2 separate regions of the Homo sapiens genome follow, and region 2 is linked to region 1. The links come from fine-mapping of genetic effects on gene expression. Tissue or cell type: visceral fat. Region 1 holds a variant in brackets; the other region holds the start of a gene. All regions are shown on one strand. Distances are between the middles of the regions.

Region 1 (4,402 bases):
ACTTAGAACATTAATGGAGAGGTGGAGGGCTGCCCCCAGCTTCCATGCAGTTTCCTGTCTCTCTGTTGAATCAATGTTGAACAAATATTGAGAGAATCTTTATTTAACTGCATCCTGGTTACCAGTTCTGTAGCGTCCACATGTGTCCCAATCCCATCATTAACCTGGATGTGATGTAGATCCCTCTCTGTGTGCCAGCTCCGTGCCATGGTTCCACATGCATCGACGGAATCACTCTCATTAGGTCGTCCCAATGGAGGGAGGCCAATCGGGGAAAAGTTCAAGAGTTAGAATAATTTTAAGAAATTAGGCTTGATTATTTTCAAGTTTCCACCAACAGGAACTCGTTGTGGGGTTAGAGGGGAAGAGGAGACACTTGTCTTAGAGAACCCTGTGAATGTCTTAATAATCAGATAAGAATCTTGTTTACTTAGCATTTTCAGTATTAGAAAGCAAGTAGGACCAAAGTGAGACTTGAGAACTGTGTGTTCTTCACTGCAGAGATTCTACAAACAGATGTATGCTTAGACTTCATGAACCGTGCAGGAAGGCATTGAGATTCAGTTGGGAAGAGTTTCGGAAGAGACTATGAATGATTAAGCTGGAAAACATCAAAGGAGAATGGATTTCTCCTTAAATGCCCTCTACAATATTATTTGTCTTCAAAATGTTCGAGTGATTTTAATAGTATCCTAGTGTTTATCTTATAAATTCCTCCTCATTCTTTAGAACCCACTTTGGTGCCAGTATCACTGATCAAGAAAGTGATCCCTAATCTCCCCTGCCTCCTAGAATTCATCTGCCCTTTCCACATGCTGATGTCACTACTCTGACCACACTGAATTGTCAGTGGGCTTATTTGCAGGTCTGTCTTCCATACTGGACAGGGAGGTCTTTGAGTCTAGGTATTGGCTTCATTTATCTCTGGGTCCTTATTTCAACCGAGCATTTGGCACACTGCAATTACTTGGTATGTATCTGATTAATAAAGAAACACACTTATCATAAGTACAATATTTATTCTGCAACTTTTGGTGGCCATGAATAAACATGCTGGTTTTCTTTCCGGCTTCAGGTCATAGTTTATTCTAACCTAATTAAATTAACTCATGGATGAGACCACTGAGTTTAAATCATTCTCCCAAGGCTATAGAACTTGTTAGATGGCCCATCCAGGACCAGGACACAGGCATCCAAGGACGCAGGACTCCAAGCCTGGTGCTCTTTCTTTCCCCTTTTCATTTCTGACTTCAAAAAACAGCACATGTTTAGAATAGAATGTTAAAGAACAAAGAAAATTCCTCCTAAATTCAACTACCTAGAGACAACCAACATCAGCATTTTGGCAAATATCCCTTCTAATGTGTGTGTGTGTGTGTGTGTGCGCATGTATACAATTTTACACATGTAACTAGCTATTAAATGGGGTTCTTTGAGTTGTTTCAGAGTGTTAGCTGAGGCCCCAAATCTCAGGACAATGGAAGACAAGTACTCACACATTCTAGAGAGAGGAGCTGGAGCATTCTTACTGAAAGATGTCCAACTGGCTTTCCACTATCAACATCCAGCACCCACTCCAGCCCTTATGCAGTGAGTGGCTAGAGACACTTCTGGGGAAAAATCATTCAACAAAAGGAAACTCACAGGAGGAGGCAATACTGTGGTATGTCTCCTCCTCTCAAGCCCAGTGAAGGATCCAGAGAGAGGGTGAGGTCCCTGCCAGCAGAGGAAAATTGTACCTTACTGCCACAAGTGAAGCTTGCTGCATTGTAACACAGACCTGC[A/G]ATGAAAAGTAATTGCAAAAACTGCAATTACTTTTACACCAACCTAATAGAAGAAAACACAGAGGCTTTTCCTGGTCTGCTCCCTGATTGAAACACAGGAGATTCTTGGGAGAGCTGAAAATGGCCCAGAGTCTAAAGACACAGACACAGAGACGGTGCATGTCTCTCACTGGGAGAATCCCAAAGTCTCATTCAGGGAGAGAAATAATTCCACCAGGAGGAGTGATCCCCTTCACAGGCCAGGGGTGGTGGAATTTCTTTTGAGTCATGTGCATGCCAGGCATCCTGTAAGGAGCCCACTTTTGGCTGCCTATGGAGGTAGGGTGGAGCTGCAAAAAAAACAAAAAAGTAGGTTCATAGATGACTTAAATTAACAGATTACTGATCTTCCTTACCTCCAGCTAGGCTCTGAGCCTCAGGTGAAACCTGATAGTGAGGGGAAGGGCAAAAACTTAAGATGTGAGATTTAGATTTAAAATATGTTTTCAACCTGAACACAATGAAAAAACAGTGAAATATACCAAGATATTGTTGTGGTGGACACATGAAATGCCATGCAGATACCCCTTTAAGTGGAACTCTTGTCCCAGCCATTTGGAGTGCTGTCAGGAGAAAACCTGGCCTTAGCCTCCTGTGGGGATGGCCTCAGCTGGAGAGAGCCTCCTGAGCAAGTCCATCACACCCATCCCAGGGTAGCCCAGATCCCATGACTGAGGCAGAGGATATAGAGGCTTTGCCATTTCAGTCCATTATGGGACCATTTTGTCTCTAGAGCTCCCTAAAGTTGGCCAAGGTGTCATTGTTCTGGCAGGTACCAGAGTTCACCTTCTCCCTGTCCAATCTGTGCCCTTTCCCTCTTTAACAGGTGTTGTTCCCAAGGGCTCTCCGTGATAAACATCTTACAACTAGACTCTGTCTCAGAGTCAAGTTCCTGGAGAATCTTACTTGAGACAATTGTCCAGAGAAGCAAAATCAAACCAAATATGTTTGAAGGGAGAAAAAAAAATAGATATTTCCTACTCATGCCCTACTGATGGCAGTATTCCTATAAACACAAAAATAAAATCAACTAGACATTATCTTTTATAAAATGCTTTTCAAAATTCCTTTTTATTGAGTGTTCAGATATGTCATTCCTTTTTAATGGCTGCATTATATTCCTTTCTAGGAAATGTAACATATTTAACCAACCCTCCCTGTTTAGGCTTACAGGCTATTTCCAAATTATACTATTGCTGCAGGAATCCATGCATACATTTTTGTGTGCTTGTTTAATTATACTTTTATGATATAGTCACAGGAGAGGGATTACTGGGCTAAAGGTATTTTCTTTTTAGATAGTGCAATCCACATTTTATTATAGAAGTTTTATATTAATTTTTACTTCAACCAAGTGTAGATAAATGTGATGCATCTCCATATTCTTGCCAACTCTGGGCATTATTAATCTTGTTCATCTTTTATAATATATTAGGTGGCATTGTTTTATTTATTATCTCTTTATTTACTTATGTTTTCTGAAGAGGTTGAAAATATTTTTATGTATTCATTGGCCAGCCTAACCTCTTGGCTTGGGATCTGGCTCTTCTGTCTTGACACTCCATTTTTACTGGCATCTTTGTATTTTTCCTTGCTTACTTAGAGGTGCTCCTTTTTTAGGTATTAAGAATGTTTCACCACTTGACTGGCAAATAATTATCTGGTTTGCTGTGTGTCTCTTGAATTGGAAAACATTGAATATGGAACATTTTGGCTTTATGCTCCCAAATCTATAGGTCTTTTTCTTTATGGGTTTTATTGTTGGTGTTTCTTCCAATAAGAACAACTGTCTTGCTTATATTACTGATTTTCCTAAAACGTTATTTTCTTTGGGACAAAATTAAATATTTGCCTAGTTATGAATTATAAGAATTCAAATTTATAGTTTTTTGAAGTCATATTATCCATACTAGCATTACTCAAACACACACAACCTGACCATGCCTATATATCATTGTCTTGAGTGCACATTATTATTAATCCAGCCCTATTCCTTTCTCTTATTCAAATTAATAGAGAGATTATTTTGAATGAAAAGTAGCACAAACTTTCTTGGTGACTATCCCAGGTTATAATACTTGTAAGTCAGCATCTCCAAGGCAGCATTTTGATAGGCATTCTTATGACTGCCAAAGTTTCAGCTTCTCTTTCCAAAAAGTGAGGATAATCAGACCTACCTTATGGGATTGTAGTAAAGAATGAATAACATAGATGTAGGGCATCAGAAGAAGCTAATCAATGATATTATTATTATTTTAATTATTAATTTATTTTTCTTCCTTCTTCTTTAAAGAGTTTATAGTTGGATAATGTGGATGAATGCCACATACCTCGTAGACTTGTATCCACAATTCAAAACCCTCAAATTTTTGTAAGTTTGTGAAAAACTCATTTGGTGATGAAACCTGACTTGCACTGACATGAGGTATTTATAGTTTTTATGATCCCATTTACTGGGAATATTCATATACTCATATATTATACTGTAGATCTTAATGGATTTGATTATTGGGTACCTCCCCTTTTATGAATATAAAAATTTCCAGATTCAGTGGTACATCTTGTCCCAAGGACTTCAT
Region 2 (4,402 bases), 68 kb after region 1:
CAGGTTGGGGTGCATTATTGGAGTGATCATGGCTTACTGCAGCCTCAAACTCCTGGGCTCAATTGATCCTCTGGCCTCAGCCTCCTGAGTAACTGAGGCTACATGTATGCACCACCGTGCCTGGCTAATTTTTTATTTTTTATTTATTATTTTTTTTTGTGTGGGGATGAGGTCTATGTTGACCAGGCTGGTTTCAAACTCCTGGGCTCAAGCGATCCTGCTGCCTTGGCCTCCCAAAGTGCTGGGAATTACAGGTGTGAGCCACAGTGCCTGGCTAAGATGGAGTTTTATATACAGAATTATCAGGCCTTCTTTCATATCTCATCCTCAATATGCAAATAACTAATTCATTTAGCAAATATTTATTGAACGTCCATTATGTATGAGGCACTATTGTAAGTATTGGAATAAGTGCAGTGAACAGGTCAGATATGGTAACTGCCTGGATGGAGTTTATGTTATAATGGAAGCAAATAGACACAAGAAATATGATCGCATCAGGTATTTATAAGTGTTATGGTGAAAATAATGCAGAGTAATCTAATCTAGGGAGTGAGAGGGTGACTAGGGTCACCCATGTGGTGGCTAGGTGCCTGGGTCTGGCGTTGCACTTCTTCCATTCAAATCCTGGCTCCATGCACCTCTGGCTCTATGGCCTTGTCCAGTTGTGCACTCTCTAAATCCCAGTTTTGTTACCTGTAAAATGGACATATTAACATTACCTACTTTAAAGAGGTGTTTTAAAGAAAATGGCTACTCCTAACATCTCCCCAAGAACCAAGCACAGAATTTTGGAAGTTTTAATATATTTTCTTAAAGAAGTCTCTTTCTCAGCATTGTAAGACAATTAACTAGATTCAAGTCTCAGAGTTGTTAAGTTATTTTATCTTAAGGCATCCAACGGCACAGATTGACATTAAAGTGAAAGAAGAACTAGCTTCATCATTGCCATTGTTCTTTACCATAGCCCATGGGAACACAGGACCCGGCTGACTGAGAAAAGTGAATGAGGGGAATTATATCAGAAATGACAGAGAAGGATGGGCAGGATTTCTGGCAGGCACAGGTATTTCTAAGTAAGAAATGGTGTGGTTAGGAGAGAATACTCTCAAGAAGGGGAGAGATGGATTCTGCGGCAAAGGGAGGTTCCTTCATTCAGTGTTTATGGAGAGAATAAAGGCGCTGGCCCCTCCAGTGAGGATATGGAGTAAACGAGACAATCAAGTCCATCACTCCTGGAGCCTGCATTCTAGTGTGGAAGACAGACAGCAAATGATACATCAACATTAAGAAATTCATGAGTAAATAAAGATAATTTCAGGCAATAATAATTACTCTGAAGAACATAAACAGGGACCTATGATAGAAAAGGGGTGTAAAGGAGTTTGGAGGATTTAAGCTGAGTGAGCAATCTCATCTCTATTTTGATAAGGTCACTGTGGATTCTGTGTGGATAACACATTGGATGTGGATAAGAACAGGAGCAGAGAGACCTCCAATAGCAGGAGGCTGCTCTAGGGGTCCTTGCAAGGGATGCTGGCAGCTTGGACCCGAGTGGTGGGATGCAGATGGAAGAGGCAGGTGGACAGATGAGACAGCTGAAGCAGGAAAAGCAGGCACAAAGGCTAACACAACACAATGTAACAGAACGGGAGTTTAGAACGGAAGGAACACTCCAGAGTCATTCTGGTCCAATTCTGCAGATGAGGAAACCACATCCCAGGAGGCCGAGGCGGCTTGCCCCGCATCTCAGAAGCCGGGCAGGCCCTGAGCCTTCTGACCTCACATCCTCTGCCACACCACAGTGGAGAAACCAGAACTGGAGGAGCAGCCAGAATGCAGAGAAGAAAAAAGAGGTGAGGGAGCGAGGAGGAGGGAGAACAGAGAGAGAGGGAAAGAGGCAGCGAAGGGGCAGAGAAAATGAAAGAAAATGCTGGTGGAATGAGAGGGAAACCACAACAGGTGAAAACAGGGATGGCGGAAGGCAGGGGAGAGGAGTGAGACGGCCCTTGTTGCTGGGATTATTTAGGGCGGATAGTTTCCAGTTGAGGTTCGGTTTCATAGCCCATTGCCTGGCTGCCTGCAGCTGTCAGGGCACCAGAGGCAGCAGTTGGAGCAGCTGCCTGCACCACCTGAGCCACAAGGACAACGGCAAGGGAAGTGCAGATGGGCAGGAAGTCCCTCTGGGTCGGAGCCAGGGTAGCCAAGATCACATTGTTCTTGCCCACCGCGTGGGATGCTCAGGCTTCCCAAGGCAGCCCAGAGACCAGACCCGTCCTTTATCCTTAGCATGGCCACCATCATCACCATCATCGCCATGCTCCCACTTCTTAGGATCATGTGCCGGGGGCTTTGCATGCATTTCTCTCTTTCATCCTCACAGAAGCACTTGAGGGGGGTATAGCTTTCCCCAGTTTACAGATAAAGACACGATGGCTTCATTCCTTAACTCACTAACCTCATTTCAGAGCCAGGAAATGGCAGAAAGGCCCTGCTGTCGTGTTTTTTGTTTGTTTGTTTGTTTTTTTGTCTTGTTTTCTCCTCTTGAAGAGGACACACGGAGCCCTGGGTTGACGTTATAGGAGGTGTTGGTGCCGTGCACTGAAGGGATCTGCTGTTTTCTCCTTCCTGCAACTGGAGGTCACTCAGCCTGGACTGATGAGGCCGGGGAAGCCTGTGCTCTGTCTGGTCCACACAGCCCCCTCAGCCACCCCAGGGAATGCTCAGATCCAGTTGCACAGGTAGCCCACAGAATACAAACAGAACTTTCTTTTAGAATTTTTATGCTGTTTTATTGTTTCATACAGACAACTACCGACCTTCCCTTTTTTCCTTCAAGGCCCCTTTCAAATGTCACCTCTTCTATGAAGGTTTTATTTCTTTCCAGGCAAAATAAACCACTCCCTTTTTGGTGCCCTCATAGTTTTACATTTTGGCCTAAAGCACTTGTTCGCCTCCTCCATCAGAGCATGGGATTCTTGAGGGAAGGAACTGTGTTTTAATCATTTCTGTATCCTTGGCATCTAGCACAGTGCTTGGCACAGTAAAAGCTGTCAATAAATGTTAGCTGAACTGAAAAGTAAAAAATGGAAAGGGCATTTGTTGGGGCCAGCATAAGTCAACTGTTTCCATCCTTGTTTCCTTAACTCAGAAACTCAAATGAAGAAAGACATTGTCAGTCTCATGAGCAGTCCATATTTTTTTTTATTGGTGAGAGATAAAGTAAATGGCATGTGGATTTCCTTTGGAAGAATAACAAATAAAATTCTTTTGTAAGGATGTGAATTATAAAATTAACTTTTTTTATCTCCAGATTGTCATTTTGCAAGGAAAAAAATATAAGTAATAAATATGAACATACCTTTTTTATTTCAGACTTTTGCTCCATAGGCAATAGAAATGAGATGGCCAATTACAGTATTGAAGCAGAAGTACAGATATAACTCAGTGCAGAGGCAAATATGGCACATGATATTTTCATATTTTTATGTGTTACTATGAGTAACACTATTGCAAATTCATTTTATTTATGATTTGGTCTTTGTAGCTCCAATTTCATTATTAACTGAAATTTCATAGCATCATTCTTACTGACATGCATTGAAGATAAAAATGTTCTATATTTTCCTCATCTATCCTTGTCTTTTTCTTTATTAAAAATGTAGCCATTGGCAAAATAAAAGAACTAGCAATAAGCATACTGAAATCACAACTGAGACACATGACAATAATCTATAACCATGACACCTGTCCAGGCTGCATCCAGCCAAATATGGATCCAAAAAAAGGAATACTCATATTTGTTACTTATATTTTTTTCCTTGCAAAATAACAATTTGGAGATAACAAAAAGTTAATTTTATAACTCATATCCTTATAAAATACTTTTATTTGTTATTCTTTGTCTCTCGTCAATAGAAAAAAATATGGACCGCTCATGAAATTGACAATGTCTTTCTTTATTTGAGTTTTTGAGTTAAGGAATAAGGATGGAAACAGTTGACTTACACTGGCCCCAACAAATGCTCTTTCCATTTTTTGCGTTTCAGTTCATAGTAGGAGCTCACTCAGGACTTAGCTGTCAGAGAGAGGACAGTCTGAGGCCTATGTGCACTTCCCAGCACAACATCTCACATCCTCCTCATTTTTTATCACTCAAGATATTGAAAAACTAATATGCAAGGATGCTGTCATTATAGGGGTAATCTTCAATCGTCTCTAATTATATTTAAAATTATGTCATAAACTTCAGAAAGTAACCAGTATTAGTGTATACCTTATTATTAGCATAATCCAAGCTGGCCTCACCTACAAATAGAGTCATAATTATAAAAATTTTATCTTTTAGTCTCCTACTTTCTCAAAATGGAATTTGTCCCCACTAAAAGTTATCCTTCAAAGT

What was found. PIP is the estimated chance that this variant, and not a neighbour inherited with it, causes the effect.
Region 2: it holds the start of HMHB1, and the variant in region 1 is the best candidate, but not a certain one, in a credible set for the expression of HMHB1 in visceral fat (GTEx, PIP 0.88).

The regions. Positions count from the first base shown.
Region 1 is chr5:143,742,716-143,747,117 of GRCh38, forward strand. No RefSeq gene overlaps it. Among named protein-coding and RNA genes, the nearest start is that of MIR5197, 65 kb to the left of the region's middle. The variant A/G (reference allele first, on the strand shown) is at 1,785.
Region 2 is chr5:143,810,449-143,814,850 of GRCh38, forward strand. It overlaps HMHB1 (histocompatibility minor HB-1), which reads left to right and starts at 1,713. Exons shown (of 2, transcript NM_021182.3): 1 at 1,713-1,856. The coding sequence starts at 1,820.